Regions from separate parts of the Homo sapiens genome. Here region 2 is linked to region 1. The links come from fine-mapping of genetic effects on gene expression. A gene starts in region 1. The other region holds a variant in brackets. All regions are shown on one strand. Distances are between the middles of the regions. Region 1 holds the start of LAMA2 (laminin subunit alpha 2). Region 2 overlaps LAMA2 (laminin subunit alpha 2).

Evidence for each region. PIP is the estimated chance that this variant, and not a neighbour inherited with it, causes the effect.
Region 2: its variant is fine-mapped to the expression of LAMA2 in blood mononuclear cells (TOPMed, PIP 0.98). The same link has a PIP of 0.9 or more in NK cells.

Annotation. Positions count from the first base shown.
Region 1 is chr6:128,880,803-128,885,337 of GRCh38, forward strand. LAMA2 (laminin subunit alpha 2) reads left to right here and starts at 2,336. Exons shown (of 65, transcript NM_000426.4): 1 at 2,336-2,555. The coding sequence starts at 2,444.
Region 2 is chr6:129,362,595-129,366,594 of GRCh38, forward strand. LAMA2 (laminin subunit alpha 2) reads left to right here. Exons shown (of 65, transcript NM_000426.4): 33 at 3,625-3,767. Among named protein-coding and RNA genes, the nearest start is that of ARHGAP18, 350 kb to the right of the region's middle. The variant G/A (reference allele first, on the strand shown) is at 2,411.

The DNA.
Region 1 (4,535 bases):
TATAGAAATAGACTATGTATTGGGTACTTTGTCAGATGAGTATTTACATCTAAAAAATGTTTCAAATGAGCATATTTATTGTGTGTAAATTGTACCTTATTTAGGTTTATTTGGAAAAAATATAGCTCTAAATATACTGGTTCATTTTAATTTGGGTTAAATATTTAAGAATTTTTTCCATGTGCTGAATCAAACAAGTAGAGTTGACAGTGGAGATCATAGTCTTATTCTCAAGGCATTTTCATGTAAAATAGGAACTCAGGTAACTGCAGTAACTGCAGAAAAGCAGGTACAAATATTGATTATAAAATCCTGGGAAAATGTAAAGAGGAAGGGGATAGAGGGAACATGGTATATTTTCATTCCACAATTAGAGTTAGCAGCTGCATCATTCTGATTTTCCTTTTTATAAATATTTTTTATTATTTATTAGATTAACTAATTTGAGTTGAGGCCACAACATGGTTGAGTAAAAATAATCATTTTCCTTTTTATAAATATTCAATAAAACTTTTCCTTTTTATAAATATTTTTTATTATTTATTAGATTAACTAATTTGAGTTGAGGCCACAACGTGGTTGAGTAAAAATAATCATTCTGAGAATAGCAATAGGTTTAGAAGGTTAATTTAGGGTGCCTCTCTGCTATTAGATGTACCTGAAAAACACTTCTAGGCAAAATTAGACCAAATTAAAAACACTGGGGCTTCAATTATAATAAACTCTCAAATATAAGTTTTATTATTGTTTATTATAATAATAAATAATGTATAAGTGTGCAGACATGGGCAGACTACATTTTGCAAATTTCCACAGTAAGGTAAAAGGATTACAAAGCTTTCTGGTATAATATTAACAGAACTAAAAGACATGAATAATATTAAAGAATGGGCTTTGGCTAGTGATTTTCAATCAATTCTCTTCAAAGCAATACTCTCTTAATTTTACTGAAAGAAAATTCAACTTTAATATAATATTTAGATAAATCAATACATCTTAACTATAAAAAAGAAAACTATCTATATAAGACAATATGTATTTCAACATATAAATGCTTGGGTAAAACTTCCTTAGGAGGCAAAATAAAATAAAAGTTTGCACCTATTCTTAGATGACCCCAGTGTAATCGATGGGATGTTGATATTGTGCTGGTGACTCAAGTACCATGGGCAAGGTTGTTATCAGTGATGTGCTTCTCTGAAAGTACATCTTTACACCCATTGACAAATGGGTGTAAAATCCAAAAACACAAAGTAAATTATCTTCTCAATGTATATAGTAGATGCATCCTAGAAAAAAACAAACAAACAAACAAAAAACACACACAAAAATTTGATGTGGAAACAAACTTAAATTAGGTTTCAAATATAAGGCAAGGTTTTGTTGTTTTGTTTGTTTGTTTACTCACTACATAAATGACCAGTGGCCCATTCAGAAGTCTAAGGACAAAATATGTTGTAGGACTGTCCTGACCACTGAGGGACAGCTCACACCCTGACCCAACAGTACACTAATGCCTGCAGTACCCACCGTTCCCGGAGTAAACCAAAAGACATCCTGCGACTCACAAAATCCATTATGGAGTTGTTTTAAACCTTATGAGAACCACTGACCTAGGCCATAAAAAACAAATGAAAAAACAACAAAAACTAGGAATGGCAGTAGTTCTGTTGAGTTAAAGAGGAGAAAGAGGAGAAACCAGGACTGGAAGAGATGAAATTGTGAGTCTGGAAGGAAACTATTGCAAAGGCCTTTATTACCTTTAAGTAAATGTCTCCTAACTGAACTGAAAGCCTTCATTCTAACCATTAGTTTGGTCAGGAACATTTCAGGGACGCCAGGGTGGCTGTTTTATTTTGCACTTCCTTTACTGCCCTCCCAGCAGCCTACCTAGCAGTAAGTTCCCCAGCCTGCAGTGTCCCCAGAGGGCACCTTCCCTCGGCTAGTAACTTCTCAGACACTCTGGCCTTGGGGATGTCTTGGATCTTCTAGGTACACAGTGGCTGCACACAGTTTTGCCAGGCCTTTCTCAAGAGGTAAAAGTTCCTAGCTGTTTGCATTTCCCAGAAATAATGTTTTCCATGTGTAGGGATTTTACAGATTTCAAAGTGCTTTCATGTCAATTACTTTCTTTAATTTAAAAGAAGTTCAGATACCAGGTCAAGCTAGGAATGATCCGGTCTCAGAGGGAAGGAGCGCTCTAGGAAAGGAGGATCCTTTAATAGAGGGCCGTCCTGGGGCCGCGTGCCCATGGAAGGCGAGAGTGGAGGAGTGTCCTCTTTCTCCCCCACCCTCAGGCGGCGGCCCGGCCAAAGCCAGAGGGGGCTGTCTCCTCCTCTTCCCCAGCAGCTGCTGCTCGCTCAGCTCACAAGCCAAGGCCAGGGGACAGGGCGGCAGCGACTCCTCTGGCTCCCGAGAAGTGGATCCGGTCGCGGCCACTACGATGCCGGGAGCCGCCGGGGTCCTCCTCCTTCTGCTGCTCTCCGGAGGCCTCGGGGGCGTACAGGCGCAGCGGCCGCAGCAGCAGCGGCAGTCACAGGCACATCAGCAAAGAGGTACAGTCGAGGCATGGGCTTGGGTTGCATCCTTTGCCGGGACCGAGATTCCTCACTTCTTCCACTCTTCCGAGAGTTGCTGTCTGTGGACTGCCGTCTTGCTTCGCCTTCAGAGAGTGCGCTCTGGGGCAAGAGGAACTTGAAGCAAGTTCAAGTTCAATGCCATGAGAGCGTAGTGTAGGGGGAATTACCTAAGTCCTGCAAAAGGAACGGGGAGTGCTTTTCATTGTTCTTTAGTTTCGAAGAGGTCTTGCTATCACGATACATCCCGTAAATTGATTTCTGAAATCTTTCCAAGAGGAAAACTTTTTCCAATTGGAAAAAAAAGAATTTCTTCAAATCAGAGCCCATCCTGCAGAGAAAGGCTTCCCAAGCTGTGTGGTTCATCCTGGGACTTTATGGAGGGTAGCTGATGCATCAAAAAAAAATTATATATATATATATACACACACACACACACACACACACACACACACACATATATATATATATAAAGTTTTACAGAACTTTGTTTTCAACTTTTAAAACAGGATTTCTAAAGAAGTTATGTGGTTTTTTTTCTTTCATGGCAATGGCGCCTCCAGCCTCACCTTTTTCAAACCCACATCTTATCTTCATATCCTATTTTATTGTAGTGAAATCGTGAAATTTCTCCTTTTGCTTAAATACAGAGGAGACTTCTATGTCATGTGTACTTTAAGGCCACAGTGACTAGATATACACTTTGGAGGACTTTGGAAGATGGCTGTATTTAATGTAACTTAAATAACTTATTCTCCTCAGAGCCTCTTAGTGTTTATGTATATATAGCTCTCATTTCTGAAACTTTGGGGAGTCTTTGAAGAGTTATTTTATTATCATGAATTTTACAGGAAGCACATGTGCAGCATTGTAAGACATACTTTGTAACACATTATTTCAGCAAACAATTCTTTAAGTTGGAAAACCTGTATCAAAGTAAAAAAAAAAGAAATATTTATTATTCGGTTTTAAATATGAAAATGTTTAACCTAAGAGTACAAAATCTGTAGGTTAGAAGCTTTTAAAAGTTTTAATGAGGCTGAATCTGCTTAAGTTTTGAAGTATACTTATCCTTCTTCCAGTTAACTTCTAGCCAAGTCAATAGTTCTGATATTTGTTCTTATAATCTAGCATTTTTAGCAGTACTATTTTTTAAGGAGTAAAGAGATATCCCAAGCTCTTTCTATAATAATAACTCCCTGATTAAAATTCTTGGAATAAAAATGACCTTGCATTCACTATATAACTTTTTTCCTTCTATTTTTGCTTTTGCTTCTCTGAGAGGTAAAATGGGGCCAATATGACTTAATTAATATAATTTACGAGAGTGATTTTAAGAGTATCTCTGGCCACTTATTTTTAAAAATTCTACTTTTAACTATTAAACTTTGCTCAATTACAAGGTGTGTTTAAACAAGACATAATACTTTAATAATGTTAGGCAGCTGGGAGAAATGAGGGGCCAGGGGCACCAATCCTTATGTCCACTTGGAATGGGGCAGAAACTCAAAGCATGCAGAGTAAGGATCAAGTAAATTGTTGCTAAGAATTATCCTGAACACACACAGGATTTCTCTTTTTTCCTCTCCCTTCTTATTTACTCTCTTTTCAAATAAGGTAATATTAACTCTGATTTCTATGACCCAGGCACAAGATGAAGTGAATTCAGGAGGAAGGGTTTATACTACCATTCTGTCAAGATACCACTTAAATGCTACATACAATAAGGAATTTTATTCAAAATAGCTACAACATACAATCTACTATAGGCTGCTATAATCTGCATTCTAGTATATATTATTGTCTTTGTCATAGACCATTTACAATATATCTGGAGGTTGGCTCAAGGATAAATGACTTAAACCTGTTAATGTTGAAAGTATGTAAAATTCATGAAACTTTAAAATTGGATAGTGATTTATGATTTAAAAATGCCTTATGTACACGATCTTTATTCAC
Region 2 (4,000 bases), 480 kb after region 1:
TGTACAAGACCCTTTCCTAGGCACCATAACCAAGGTGTTTAAGGTCCCTTCTTTAACGAGGAAGAAAGAATATATAAATAAATTAAGTAATAATGTAGCCCAAACAGGCATAAGTGTTAAGAAAGCAAAGGAAATGCAGTAGTGACTGGCGCAGGGTATAGGGCTGGGGGTGGTGGGGAGTTTCAGGTAACAGTAATTTTAGAATCATCAGGGACTTGCTCTCTGAAAAAGTGACACTTGAGCACTTGACCTGAACACCTAGGAACCAGGTGGGAGAAGACCAAGGGAGAAGAATTCTAGGTAGAGAAGACAGCAAGCAAAAGGACCTCTTCCAAATCCTTGCTCCCTTGAAGATTGAGCATCCCTATAATTTATCACCTGGTCCAGTGGTTTTATCCTTTGGCTACATGGTTTTTCAATTACTGGAATATTTTTAAAATACAGTGGTTCACGCCTATGATCCCAGCACTTGGGGAAGCTGAGGTGGGAGGATCACTTGAGGCCAGGAGTCTGACATCAGCCAGGGCAACACAGCAAGACCCCATCTCTATGTTAAAAAACTAGCTGGATGTGGTGGCATGTGCCTGTAGTCTCAACCACTCGGGAGGCTGAGGCAGGAGGATCACTTTAGCCCAGGAGTTTGAGGCCGCAGTGAGTCATGATCACACCACTGTACTCCAGCATGGGTGGCAGAGCAAGACCCTGTCTCAGAAAAAAATAAAAATAGAAATACTGATGGTTAGACCTTACCACAGACCCATCAAAAATCATATTCTGTGGTGGTGAGGAGGGAAAGAGCCCAGGCATCTGTATTTTATAAATGTTCATGTGATTCCAATGGGCAGCCAAAGGTGAGAACCACTGATCCACACCAATGTTGTCACATTCTAATGTGCAGAGATAATGTGGGACGCAGATTCTGATTTCCTAGATCTGGGGTAGAGCCCGATTATACATTTCTAATAAGCTTCCAGGTGGTGCCAAAACTGTTGGTCTGATTGCTACTCAAAGTGTGGTGCACAGACCAACAGTAGCAATATCACCTGGGAGCTTGTTAGAAAAGCACATTCTCAGTCAGAGACTAAGAGAAACCAGGTGATCAAATCACCTCCTGATTCAGAAATACTAGGGGGTGTGGACCAGCCCTCTAGGATTTCCGAAAGTCCTACTGGTGGTTCTGAGGCCCACTAAAGCTTGAGAACCAGACTGTGGATCTTGGTGTTTAGACACAGTCAATTTGGCACTTAACTGAGTTCTATGTTGTGTTTTCTCTAATTGTTTAATGTGGACAAGTCTGTTGAAGTTTGCATTGAACGGGGCTATGAAGCCAAAATAATCTTTTACTTGGTTTCCATGCAGTGCAAATTTGGTTTCATTCTGGCTAGGAGAAGAGTAAGAGATATAGCCCTAGTTCCAGACTTCTGCTCTGGCCTCCAAAGCCTCTTTGTTCATTCAGCTTGTGAAGCATCAGGAGCTTGCAAAGCCCCTGCAGGTGACGCTCTACAGTTGTCACCTGCAAGAAGCTGCAGGTGTCACCTGCAAGAAGCTGATTTATTAAAAGCCCTGCCAGGGCAGTTTAATCCCTGTGAAGTGATATTGTAACTCACCTCTAGCTGCTGTCCTATCAAAAAATCACTCTCCGTCCTCCTTCTCTTTGTTTACAAGCACCAGTTAATGGTTTTCTCTCCATTAAGCAGCTCAGGGGACTGCTGTTTAGAGACCTAATTGAATTCTTGCCAAGTTTGGGCATGATCCAGAGCTGCTCCAATTCTCGGTATTTTCCATGCTATGTATTTTCCCCTATTCTAACATGTATATAGCATTGATACCTCTATCTGCAGAATGTAAGAAATTGTAACTGTATACATGAGAGTATATTATAAATGCAGTAGTTCCTGCTCCTTGGCGTGCAGATACACCTCATTACTCTGCAATGCAAAACTAAAAATATACATGTTTTTTAAATCTGCTAAAAGATTCAATATATGTTAATTTTGGAAATTATACGACTATTTATGAGATCTATTCCATAATGAAGAGTCAACAATCCATTTGTCTCTCTACCAATTCTACCACCTATCCTGGCCCCTACCACCAAATTTGAATAGCACCTCTTTGATGGCCAAAAATATTATGGTGAGTGTATTAGTCCATTTTCGTATTGCTATAAAGAAATGCCTGAAGCTCGGCAATTTGTAAAGAAAAGAGGTATAATTGGCTCATGGTTCCATCAGGCTGTACAGGAAGCATGGCTGGGGTGGCCTCAGGGAACTTTCACTCATGGCAGAAGGCAAAGCTGGAGCAGGCATCTTCACACAGGCAGAGCAGGAGGAAGTGGGGGCTGGAGGTGGCACACACTTTTAAATAACCAGGTCTTATGAGAACTCTGTCATGAGAACATCACTAGGGC[G/A]GTGGTGCTAAGCCATTAAAACCACTCCAGTGATTCAATACCTCCCACGAGGCCCCATATCCAGTATTGGGGATGACATTTCAATATGAGATTTGGATGGGGACACAGATCCAAACCATATCTGGTAGAATATTAGCATTCTTGGCTACTTAAAGAATATAGTTTTTCTAGCCTTTAGCAATTATTTATCTATAAGACTGAAAGAGGTTAATCATCAAAGTAGGGATTTGTGAGACTGCATCTAATCATGGGTGGTAATAGACTGAAGGGATAAAGAGGAACAGTTGGCAAATAAATAAGTCAATAAATATTATCATAAGAAAACACTATAGAAAGAAAAGTTATTTTTATTTTGACTTTTTATTTTATTTTTTGGGGGGTGGAGTCTCAGTCTGTCGCCCAGGCTGGAGTGCAGTGGTGCAATCTTGGCTCACTGCAACCTCCGCCTCCCAGTTTCAAGTGATTCTCCTGCCTCAGCCTTCTGGGTAGCTGAGACTACAGGGGCCCGCCACCACGCCTGGCTAATTTTTGTATTTTTAGTAGAGACAGGGTTTCACCATGTTGGTCAGGCTGGTCTTGAACTCCTGACCTCAGGTGATCCACCCACCTCGGCCTCTCAAAGTGTTGGGATTACAGGCATGAGCCACCACACCCGGCCTTCTTTAGACTTTTTTTTTTTTTAATTATTCTACTCAATAGATACCAAGCTAAAAATTTATATACTTTTTGAATGTGTAATACATAAAGCATGTGGAGGTCAAATTACTATGACTTTCTCCAGTGCAATCTAATGGAGCACCACACATTTAGACTCTGGAGCATGTTTTATTCCCTGTGGACAGGTTCCTTTCGATTGCTCATGTAGGGATTTAGGGGGTACTTTTAATGTTATATTCTATGCCTTAAAGGAAATCTTCAATACTTGTGCAATACACTTTTTCTCCCCAAATCTATTTGCTCCTCCTCTTTGGTCCCTCAGTTTATATTATCGCCTCTATTTCAGGTTCTGGGCGACATGCATATCTGTTCTTTTGTTGTTGTTCTTATCTTTCCTCAACCATCATCCATTTGATAGCATTAATATTCTGAGATGAGTAGTTTCATCTTCCATGGAATTATTCTTGGACCATAAAATATTTCATAGCTGAATTCTTTGAACATCTGCCTGGGATGTTTAGCAGAAGTAACTACTCTTTGTCACTTCTCTTTCACAGTTTGTGGAGATGAGTGCACTGGCCTTCTTCTCGGTGACTTGGCTCGCCTGGAGCAGATGGTCATGAGCATCAACCTCACTGGTCCGCTGCCTGCGCCATATAAAATGCTGTATGGTCTTGAAAATATGACTCAGGAGCTAAAGGTAGGTTGGTGCAGTCACAAGCAAGGGCCAGGGACAAGGTGACAGAAGCTTCACAAGCGGTATTGGCTGTAATTGGTAAATGTTCTTCCCACAGCCCCAAATCAAGGGACACAACTGTTAGGGAAATTCAGAGACTTTCTTAACCAGTGTTTTTCAAACTCAAGAACTATAATATACAGATTTCTATTAAGGGAAAAGAGTCTCATGTACCCCCCAGTGTCTGGCCTAAATCA